Homo sapiens: one gene and its partners. The protein of the gene in region 1 purifies or fractionates together with the protein of each later gene. This does not show direct contact. Each region holds a gene or a part of one and is shown in the gene's direction. Other genes may lie near its edges. The genes, in order: SPAST, NUP133 and NUP85.

Evidence for each region.
Region 2: the proteins of SPAST (region 1) and NUP133 purify together in Homo sapiens (affinity purification with mass spectrometry; 4 studies listed by BioGRID and IntAct, with this or other methods). This does not show direct contact.
Region 3: the proteins of SPAST (region 1) and NUP85 purify together in Homo sapiens (affinity purification with mass spectrometry; 4 studies listed by BioGRID and IntAct, with this or other methods). This does not show direct contact.

What each region holds. Positions count from the first base shown.
Region 1 is NC_000002.12:32,115,485-32,119,236, forward strand, and holds part of SPAST (spastin), read left to right. Parts: intron 1-217; coding exon 218-351; intron 352-634; coding exon 635-728; intron 729-3,752. UniProt on the Homo sapiens protein: ATP-dependent microtubule severing protein that specifically recognizes and cuts microtubules that are polyglutamylated.
Region 2 is NC_000001.11:229,487,742-229,491,493, reverse strand, and holds part of NUP133 (nuclear pore complex protein Nup133), read left to right. Parts: intron 1-1,391; coding exon 1,392-1,539; intron 1,540-3,752. UniProt on the Homo sapiens protein: Involved in poly(A)+ RNA transport. Involved in nephrogenesis.
Region 3 is NC_000017.11:75,222,667-75,226,418, forward strand, and holds part of NUP85 (nuclear pore complex protein Nup85), read left to right. Parts: intron 1-2,436; coding exon 2,437-2,571; intron 2,572-2,675; coding exon 2,676-2,798; intron 2,799-3,031; coding exon 3,032-3,163; intron 3,164-3,356; coding exon of another isoform or gene 3,357-3,384; coding exon 3,385-3,491; exon of another isoform or gene 3,492-3,492; intron 3,493-3,752. UniProt on the Homo sapiens protein: Essential component of the nuclear pore complex (NPC) that seems to be required for NPC assembly and maintenance. As part of the NPC Nup107-160 subcomplex plays a role in RNA export and in tethering NUP96/Nup98 and NUP153 to the nucleus.

The sequences.
Region 1 (3,752 bases):
ATCTCTGGATAAAATCCTCTATAACTGACTTAATGCCAAATATAGTTCTCTAGTGAATACAGTTTTACCTTCAGGTAAATAAATATACAATTTATGGATTTTTATACCCTTTTTCCTATTTTTAAAGCTTGAATTCTGTGAACTTTAAGGTTAACTTATTTATGAAAAGTGTAAATGTTAGGTTGTATTTTCATATTAAAATTTTGTATCCTTTAAGGGTACTCCGAAAACAAATAGGACAAATAAACCTTCTACCCCTACAACTGCTACTCGTAAGAAAAAAGACTTGAAGAATTTTAGGAATGTGGACAGCAACCTTGCTAACCTTATAATGAATGAAATTGTGGACAAGTAAGTTTTGCCATCTAAATGTTTTATTTTATAGTTTTTATATTTTAATTTTACTTATAAAACATGTCAGGAGTGAAATAGATAATAAATACCTTGTCTGGTTTACATACTTAATTTTTATGATAGTTTTCAATTATAAATGTAGAAAACCATTGCTTTACTGATTTAACTATAGTTTAACAGTTAACATTAAAAATAACTATATGTCATAGGGCTTAGGCTTCATCTTGTAATAACTGGGCCCTGTTTGTATCGTAGAACTAACTGAGGTCTTGTTTCTTAGTGGAACAGCTGTTAAATTTGATGATATAGCTGGTCAAGACTTGGCAAAACAAGCATTGCAAGAAATTGTTATTCTTCCTTCTCTGAGGCCTGAGGTAAGAACTTTATATTATCATTTTTCTATAATACCATCTGTTACTGAATCCATAGTAGTAGTAGTAGTAAAGAAATATTTGAGCTATACTAAAATAATTAATTCATATAAGGTAACAATAGATTTAATGTTTTAAAAAAGATAAAACATTAACAATTGATGTTGAGAAGTTATTATAGAATAGGAAAATGGATATGAGTTCCTAATTTCCAATCCTTTTATATTTTTAGGAAAAGTGGGTAGTATGATATAATTTTGTTTTGTTTTGGAGACGGAGTCTCACTCATTGTGTCGCCCAGGCTGGAGTGCAGTGGCATGATCTTAGCTCACTGCAACCTCTGCGTCCCAGAATTCAAGTGATTCTCCTGCCTCAGCCTCCCAAGTAGCTGGGATTACAGGCATGTGCCACTATGCCCAGCTAATTTTTGTAATTTTAGTAGAGATGGGGTTTTGCTATATTGGCCAGGCTGGTCTTTCATACCTGATGTCAAGTTATCCACCCATTTCGGCCTCCCAGAGTGTTAGGATTACAAGTGTGAGTCACTACATCTGGCCAAATTTTGATATCAAGGTGAGAGAGATTTAAAATTAAGATAAGGTACAAAAATTAGCCTAGTGTGGGGGCGCACGCTTGTAGTCCCAACTACTGGGGAGGCTGTGGCAGGAGAATTGCTTGAACCAGGAGGCAGAGGTTGCAGTGAGCCAAGATGGCACCACTGCACTCCATCCTGGGTGACAGAGCGAGATGTCATCTCAAAAACAAAACAGGCCGGGTACGGTAGTTCACGCCTGTAATCCCAGCACTTTGGGAGGCTGAGGCGGGCAGATCACGAGGTCAAGAGATTGAGACCATCCTGGCTAATATGGTGAAACCCTGTCTTTACTAAAATTACAAAAATTAGCTGGGCTTGGTGGTGTGTAACCCCAGCTACTCGGGATGCTGAGGCAGGAGAATCGCTTGAACCCGGGAGGCGGAGGTTGCAGTGAGCCGAGATCACGCCACTGCACTCCAGCCTGGCGACAGAGCGAGACTCCGTCTCAAAAAAATAAATAAAAATTTAAAAAGATAAATACATAAAAATAAATAAATAATATTAAGAGAAGGAAATCAGGCAGGTAGTGGCCCCTGACACAATGAGTTTTCCCAGAATTGGATTGCTTGGAAATGCCGCTCAAAGAGTGTGGTAAACTCCATCGAAGGCTAAATACCAACGTGACAGTGATAATAAACAAGTACTTTATGGGAAAGTTTTTTTTTTAATTATTTTTAAAAAGAGAGAAATTGTACTGGAGAAAAGAGGAATTCAGGTAGAATAATTCTTTTTTTTTTTTTTTTTGAGATGGAATTTTGCTCCTGTTACCCAGGCTGGAGTGCAGTGGCTTGATGTTGGCTCACTGCAACCTCTGCCTTTGGGGTTCAAGTGATTCTCATGCCTCATCCTCCTGAGTAGCTGGGTCTATAGGCATGCACCCCAACACCTGGCTAATTTTTGTGTTTTTAGTAGAGATAGGGTTTTACCATTTTGGCCAGGCTGGTCTCAAACTCCTGGCTTCAGATGATCCGCCCACCTTGGCTTCCCAAAGTGCTGGGATTACAGGCAGAGGCCACTGTGCCTGGCATGAAGAACAATTTTTAAAAGAATGACTTTTAAGGATATTAAGTCATCAAAGTAGATAGAGCCATTAAATGATGGGTAGAAACCTAATCTTCCATCCCATATTTTATGACTTATTAAGGAAGATAGGCAATCTTGCAGTTGATAATAAATATTTGGCTTTCCATACTTAGCACCGTTTTGAATTTTTCCAGTTCACAGATGGTATATTTAGTGCTGTTCCAATAATATTGCAAAAAATAAATCTGAAGACTCACTTCTGGGTCACAGTTATTTCACTATTAACATTAAAATCTTACGGACCTACCTGCAACATGTAGTGGAAATAAGTTGTGTGGCACGTTGTGGTGGGTGCATTATTAAATAAATGTGCAAAGGTTTTATGGCTGTCTCAATTTTTCCATAGTCTTGAGTCATTCACATACTGCCTTTATGGTGTTTATCACTTGTAAGTGAGTACCAACTGTACTAGAACTTACTGAATATTTTTCAAGTCTATTTTACTTATTACTCATTCTAAGTACATAAAATCACTGGTCTGATATGCAAGTTAGGTTTTCGCTAATACCCAGTAAAATAATTAGATAATTATTAAAATAGAAAGCATTTGTCATTATGTGAACTGGATTTATGTCATGTACCACCTCAGGTCACACTTTGGGAAACGTAGCTTACGTATTGAGCTAACATTTTGCTGGAGTTATATAAGATTAGTAAATGCTATAGACTAAATATTGAAAAAAAAGCTTGCTTAAAGAGGATTTACATAATTGTAGACCTGAAAAGGATCTTAGCAGTCTTCTGATCGATTCATTGATAAAGAAACTAGTCCTAAGAGCTAAAATGACTTGCTCAAGATTTTAGTTAAGTGGTAGACCTAGGAAATACCTTTCTAAGATTAGAGCTGCCTGGTTAGTGCTATAGCTGCCACCTAATTCTTACATTTATTTATTAAGGGACATGCTTTTTACGGTAGAAAAATATATCTAAAATTGTGAAGGTAATACCAAGGAAATATTTAGGCTATGCAAGAAAAGTCATTCAGCTTTTGCTTTACCCAGGCCTATAGAGAACATATCTAAAATAATAAGTAACATGTGAATTTGAATTTAGGCATATTTTCATGGTAGTGACATAATGTGCAATTAAGAAGCTATAATAATGTAAAAATGCCAGTTGCAAGTTATTTCAAATAAAGTTGAATAACCTGACCTCAGGAGGGGCAGAAACCTTAGTAAACTTAGCAAACTGAGACCTAAGGAAGAGCAAGATCTGTGGTAGAGCCAGGTCTAAAGGTTTATATCCTGGTACAAACTTGTCTATACATCACCACACCTGCCAAATGGAACTTTTTTTCCTTGTAGTTCAGATTTCCAAGAAAGGGAATATTATTGTCCTAGCTCAGCGTT
Region 2 (3,752 bases), on another chromosome or scaffold:
TAAATTTATTTTAGAGATATATGGTCTCACAGTGTTGCCTAGGCTGGTCTTGAACTCTTGGGCTCAAATGATCCTCCTATCTCAGCTTCCCAAAGTGTTGGGATTACAGGTGTGAGCCATCGTGTCTGGAGGTAAAACTTTTTTAAAAATGTTTTTCCTCTGGACAAAAGCAAGTAAGCTTTAAATAACTGAGTACATCAGGGATTGGCAAACCTTTTCTGTAAAGGGCCAAAAGTAACTGTTTTAGGCTTTGGCGGCCATGTAGTCTTTACTGCAACTACTCTATTTCACCAATGGTATCATGAAACATCCCTAGAAAATACATAAATAAATGCGTATGGTTGCCTTCGAACAAAACTTCATTTATAAAAACTGGTTTGAGATCAGTTTCACTGGAGGGCTGTACTTTGCCAATCCCTGGATCAGATGGTTGTTTTGATCTTTTTTTAAAGTCAGATTTATTGAGCTATAATTTATATAGAGTAAAACTTACCCTCTTTAGTTTATAATTCCACAAGTTGTTTTTTTTTTCTTTTTTTTTTTAAGATGGGGTGTCACTCTATCGCCCAGGCTGGAGTGCAGTGGTGCGATCTCAGCTCACTGCAACCTCCACCTCCCGGGTTCAAGAGTTCTTCTGCCTCAGCCTCCCAAGTAGCTGGGACAACAGGCATGTGCCACCATGCCTGACTAATTTTTATAGAGATGGTTTTGCCACGTTGGCCAGGCTGGTCTTGAACTCCTGATCTGAGGTTATGTGCCCACCTTGGCCTCCCAAAGTGCTGGGATTACAGACGTGAGCCACCGCACCTGGCCCTAATTCTACAAATTTTGACAGATACACAATTTAGTCATTTAACCGTAACAATCAATACAGAACAGTTTTATAACCCCCCAAATTCCCTTGTGCTTTCTGTAATCGACCCCTCCATCCTCTAGCCCCTGGAGATCACTGATGTGGTTTCTGTCCCTATATTTTGCCTTTTGCTTAATGTCATAGAAATGGAACATACAGTGTAAAGCCTTTTGAGTCTGGTTTCTGTCACTTAGCATAATACACTTCAAATTCATTCAGTATTTTTTTTTTTTTTTTTTACTACTGAATAGTGTTCTTTTGTATGGATATACCACAGTTTGTTTATCTATTCAGCACTTGGAAGACATTGGGTTGTTTTCAGTTTTAGGCAATTATGAATAAAGCCACTACAGTCATTTGTACACAGGTTTTTGTGTGAACACAGTTATTGGTTTTCTGTTTCTGTTTTTAAATTTTCTCTTGGATAGGTGTCCACGAATGGGATTGCTAAGTTATATGGAAGCATATGTTTAATTTTATAGGAAACTCCTAAGTTGTTTTTTAGAGAGGCTTTACATCTTCCTTTTTTATTGATTAGTGATGGGCTGGTGATTTTGGCAGCAGCATGGCACTCAGCAGACAATCCATGTCTCATCTATTACTCTCTGATAACAATAGAAGATAATGGTTGCCAAATGTCAGATGCAGTTACTGTAGAAGTCACTCAATATAATCCACCTTTTCAGGTAAGATTTATATTGGTTAAATTACAAAGCAATAATATGTTGAGTATTTTTCTAACCATTTCAGGGTCTTATTTATTTATTGAAAGAGTTTTGCTCTGTCACCCAGGCTGGAGTGCAGTGGCTTGATCTCAGCTCACTGCAACCTCTGTCTCCCCTTCCAGGTTCAAGTGGTTCTCCTGCCTCAGCCTCCCGAGTGGCTGGGACTGTAGGCATGTGCCACCATGCCCAGCTAATTTTTATATTTTTAGCAGAGACAGGGTTTCACCATGTTGGCCAGGCTGGTCTCAAACTCCTGACCTCAAGTGATTCCCCCAGCTTGGCCTCCCAAAATATTGGGATTACAGGTGTGAGCCACCTTGCGTGGCCCATTTCAGGGTCAAATTTCGTGACAGATTTCATCTGCAGGGCTTGGAAATATTTTAAAATAGCTTGTTTCTAGACATTGTTGCATTTTCTTTGCCATCTCAGGCTTGTTCTTTTGCTTAGTTTTGACTAAAGAAAAATGAGAATGGAAGCAACTAGCAGAAAGCAGTTTGTTTCTTCTGCTCTAGATCTTTGGAGGGATTGTCATGTCTGTATTTAGGTAGAAAGAAGGTATTGATTAATTCCAGGGTGAAAGTAAGGAAGAAACCAAGCTGGGCATGATGAGTACATGCCTCTAGTCCCAGCTACTCAACAGGCCGAGGCAGGAAGATCACTTGAGCCCAGGAGTTTGAGGCTGTTGTGTACCATATTCACACCTGTGAATAACCACTGCATTCCAGCTTAGGCAACATAATGAGACTCCATCCTAAAAAAAGAAGAAAAAGAAAAAGGAAGGAAGAAAACTGGTAGGAATTAGGGTTTGGTTTAGAGCCTTGTATACTATAGAAAAATCCTCCTTTTTACCCAAAGGAAGATTATATTTGTATTCAGCAGTGTTCTGTAGTCATCAAAGTTCTTGTAAATGACTGGAAGACAGGCTTTCCAATTTTAAGTTCATTAATAGCAATTAAACATGTTTAATAACTGGTATTCATGAGGAAGAACCTGAACATCTATAAATTCATTTTATTTACTCTTACATAGTATCTAATTCTGTTAAATCCTTGTTTGTTTATTTTTTGAAGAGATAAAGTCTTGCTGTGTTGCTTGGACTGGAGTGCAGTGATATTCACAGGTCCATCAGAGTGCACGGTAGCCTCCAACTCCTGGTCTCAAGCAGTCCTCTCAGGTAGCTGGGATTACAGGTGTGCACCACCGTTCCTGGCTTAAATTCTTACTTTTTTTTTTTTTTTGATCCTTACTCTTAACATGACTTGTTTAATTGAATCCTGTAAGAAAATCTTTTGATTTGTTCTTTTATGCCAAACAGAAATAAACTTTATCATGTGTTCTGATTATGCAGTGTGGAAAACATGCTCAGTGTTAGAAAAAATTTCAGCCAGGGCAGAAGACTATAAAGAGAATTTGAGGATTAAAAAACAATTCTAGGACCTCGCATTTAATATTTCTGTAAAATTACTTCTTTAATAACAGCTTATCATTTTTAGCATATTCTAATTTTATTTAATGAGATTTATTTTTATTTCTCCCTCTGATTTTATATGTAAACAAATCAACTAAGTTTTCTTGTCATTAATATCTTGGCAGTAAGGTAAGAACAAAAATGTTTGTTTATCAGGGAATATTTATAAAAAATTGCCAATTCTTAATATAACGAATTTTAGTGCTTTCATTTTCTCCTTTGAATTTATCATAGGCTTCTAGTTATAGTCATCATCATGGAAATGTTTTCCAAATTTGTTAATTTTGGAAATTAACAATTTAGGCCAGGTGCGGTGGCTCACGCCTGTAATCCCAGCACTTTGGGAGGCTGAGGTGGGTGGATCACCTGAGGTCAGGAGTTCAAGACCAGCCTGGCCAACATGGTGAAACCCCATCTCTACTAAAGATACAAAAAAATTAGCCGGGCATGGTAGCATGCACCTGTAATCCCAGCTACTTAGGAGGCTGAGGCAGGAGAATTGTTTGAGCCTGGGAAGCAGAGGTTGCAGAGAGCCAAGATTGCACCACTACCCTCCAGCCTGGGCAACAGAGTGGGACTCTGTCTCAAAAAAAAAAAAAAAAAAAAAAATTAAAAAAGCAAATTATAAGCAAGTCAACAAAATATATGTCTAATTGATGTTTATAAACTTACTCTGTCATGTTTTGTTAATCATCTCATGGGTAGT
Region 3 (3,752 bases), on another chromosome or scaffold:
TATATAACCGATCACTTGTTTTATGTGTGTATCTGTTTGGAGACAACTTACTTGACATAATATTGTTGAATCATTAACAGTGAAGTCAGCCAGGCGCAGTGGCTCACGCCTGTAATCCCAGCACTTTGGGAGGCCGAGGCGGGCGGATCATGAAGTCAGGAGATCAAGACCATCCTGGCTAACACAGTGAAACCCCGTCTCTACTAAAAATACAAAAAATTAGCCAGGCATGGTGGCAGGCGCCTGTAGTCCCAGCTACTCGGGAGGCTGAGGCAGGAGAATGGCGTGAACCTGGGAAGTGGAGCTTGCAGTGAGCCGAGATCGCGCCACTGCACTCCAGCCTGGGCGACAGCAAGACTCTGTCTCAAAAAAAAAAAAAAAAAAAAAACTCAGGGCCAACAGCACTATAATTCGTGTCTGAATGAAGCTTATCTAACACCTCCCATAGTTCTTGCACTTAGCAACACTAGAAAGCACTTCAGTACTACACGTGGGGACCCAAGAAAATGTACAAAAATGAAAAAAATGTGGCACTAACTGCATCACGAGAAAGCCTTGTTTAGTGTGTGTCAAGCAACTCAATATTCTTGCCACTCTTAATTTTGATTTGAAAGTACCACAAATACTGATTTGGGGGTTACAGATAAATTTTAGTGAGTAGGCAGATTCACAGATAAAGACTGAACAGTGAAGACTATTTGCATTGAGTGTATATTTTATGTTATGTTATGTTATTTTTGAGATGGAGTCTCACTCTGTCACCCAGGCTGGGGTGCAGTGGCGTGATCTTGGCTCACTGCAACCTCTGCCTCCCGGGTTCAAATGATTCTTGTTCCTCAGCCTCCCGAGTAGCTGGGACTACAGGCATGCACCATCACGCCCGGCTAATTTTTGTATTTTTAGTAGAAACAGGGTTTCACCATGTTGACCAGGCTGGTCTTGAACTCCTGACCTCAGGTGATCCACCCGTCTCGGCCTCCCAAAGTGCTGGAATTACAGACGTGAGCCACCACGCCTGGCCTGAGTGTATTTATTTTACATATTTATATTTGAACTGAAACTTTTATGAACCATTTTATTTAATGCATTCTGATATTTTATATTATTTCATTTTAATTTTTTTCCAAACAAAACTTCTCACATATTTATTATTGAACCAACCTACTATTGTAGAGCTTATAATCAGAGAAAAACCATTTTCTCAACAAAGTATGTCCACCTTTCCAGATAGTGGTGACAGTTTCAGCTTGATGTGATAAGATGATAGTCTTACGTGTAGACTCATCTCATGTGTAATTCCTGGCAGACCCAGCTTGGTTCTTCTCCAGTCCCTCCTCTTGGGGTTGTAGCTAACTGTATTAGCAATTTTGTTTTATTTTGTTTTGTTTTGTTTTTTTGAGATGGAGTCTCACTCTGTCATCCAGGCTGGAGTGCAGTGGCACAATCTCAGCTCACTGCAACCTCCGCCGCCCAGATTCAAGCGATTCTCCTGCCTTAGCCTCCCAAGTAGCTGGGACTACAGGCGCCTGCCACCACGCCTGGCTAATTTTTTGTATTTTTAGTAGAGATGGGGTTTCACCATGTTAACCAGGATGGTCTCGATCTTCTGACTTTGTGATCTGCCCGTCTTGGCCTCCCAAAGTGCTGGGATTACAGCTGTGAGCCACCACGCCCAGCCCTGTATTACCAGTTTTAATCTGAATCCACTGGTGAATGGGACGATTTTGCTTTTGTTTCTTGGCCAGGAATTGCATGATCCTGGACATTTTGTGAGAAGATGGTGGGAGAAATAATCAACAGCACACACCATGATGGTGGAGAAGGGGTGGGGGGAAGCAGGTAGAGGAACATGTTTTTCTGTTTCTTTCATTTTTGAAAAGCTGGGGCTGAGCGTGGTGGCTCACGCCTGTAATCCCAACACTTTGGGAGGCCGAGGCGGGGAATCACTTGAGGTCAGGAGTTCGAGACCAGCCTGGCCAATATGGTGAAACCCCATCTTTACTAAAAACACAAAAATTAGCTGGGCGTGATGGCATGCGCCTGTAATCTCAGCTACTCGGGAGGTTGAGACAGGAGAATCGCTTGAACCCGGGAAGTGGAGGTTGCAGTGAGCCGAGATTATGCCATTGCACTCCAGCCTGGGCAACAAGAGGGGAACTCTGGAAAAAAAAAAAAAAAAGGTGGTCACAGGCTATAATGGACTACAGCTGGCTGTTTGAAAAACATAGTGGAGGTGACAAAGCCATGAGATTGGATGTGATAGATTACTTCTGGAGGGAAAGAGCCATCATTCTTCCCAGGGCAGACTCAGGTGCAGAAAGAAGCCTGTGTGTGAAGAGTTAAAAAGCCAAAGTGTGGGGTGAGGGGACTGGCCTCCTCACGCCTCGGCAGGGCCAGGCCTCCTGCCAATGCTTATGGGCCCGGATCTCCTCCCAGGTGACCATCTTGGTGCTGCAGGGCCGGCTGGATGAGGCCCGACAGATGCTCTCCAAGGAAGCCGATGCCAGCCCCGCCTCTGCAGGCATATGCCGAATCATGGGGGACCTGATGAGGACAATGCCCATTCTTAGTGTACGTGGGGGTAGCTTTGCTCTGCTGGGTCACAGGAGATGCGTGATTCACTAAATATAAAGGGTGTGGATGGGATGACGTCTCATGGCTGGTCTCTCCCTTAGCCCGGGAACACCCAGACACTGACAGAGCTGGAGCTGAAGTGGCAGCACTGGCACGAGGAATGTGAGCGGTACCTCCAGGACAGCACATTCGCCACCAGCCCTCACCTGGAGTCTCTCTTGAAGGTCTGGGAAGCAGTTCAGATTGCATCCATGTTGGCTTCCTATGGGGGCTGTGGCATCCAGTGCAGCAGTGGCAGGAGCTTGGTCCTCCTTGGATAGGGCTGTCTGTCGCTCTGCCGTGATGGCGAGAGCTTTCAGACTAGTTGAAATCCGGTGCCCTTAGCTGAGAGCAGGAGCATTATGGAGAAGGTACCCCTGAGAGGAGGACAGAGTTCAGCACAAATGTCTCTCCTCAGATTATGCTGGGAGACGAAGCTGCCTTGTTAGAGCAGAAGGAACTTCTGAGTAATTGGTATCATTTCCTAGTGACTCGGCTCTTGTACTCCAATCCCACAGTAAAACCCATTGATCTGCACTACTATGCCCAGGTGAGTGAGCTCGGGGTGGGCAAGGGTGGGGGTAGGAGTCCTGGGGGCGCCCTGATGGGTCATTCTCTTTGAATTCCTCCCTGAGGAACAGGAAGACCCTTTCCTTTGGCCCTTAGTGAAAGAACAAGGCACCTTCTCTGGGGTTCGTTATACAGCAGCCCTGCCTGCCCCGAGTCTCTGCTTCCGTCCTCAGGATTGAGTGTCTCATCACCTTTCCACAGTCCAGCCTGGACCTGTTTCTGGGAGGTGAGAGCAGCCCAGAACCCCTGGACAACATCTTGTTGGCAGCCTTTGAGTTTGACATCCATCAAGTAATCAAAGAGTGCAGGTAGGATCTCTCCCACCCCCCACTGTAACCATTTTTAGGTGTACAAATATCACCACCTTGCGTTTCTAGAGTGGCCTGTTCCTTCCTTACCCTTCTTCCCTCAGACCTGCTATCTTAGTCCATCTCACGCTGATATTACAGAATACCTGAGACCAGATAATTTATAAAGAAAAAGATTATTTTCTCACCGTTCTGGAGGCTAGGAAGTCCAGGATCAGGGCACTGGCAATGTTGCTGGTGAGGGCTGCTCTCTGCTTCCAA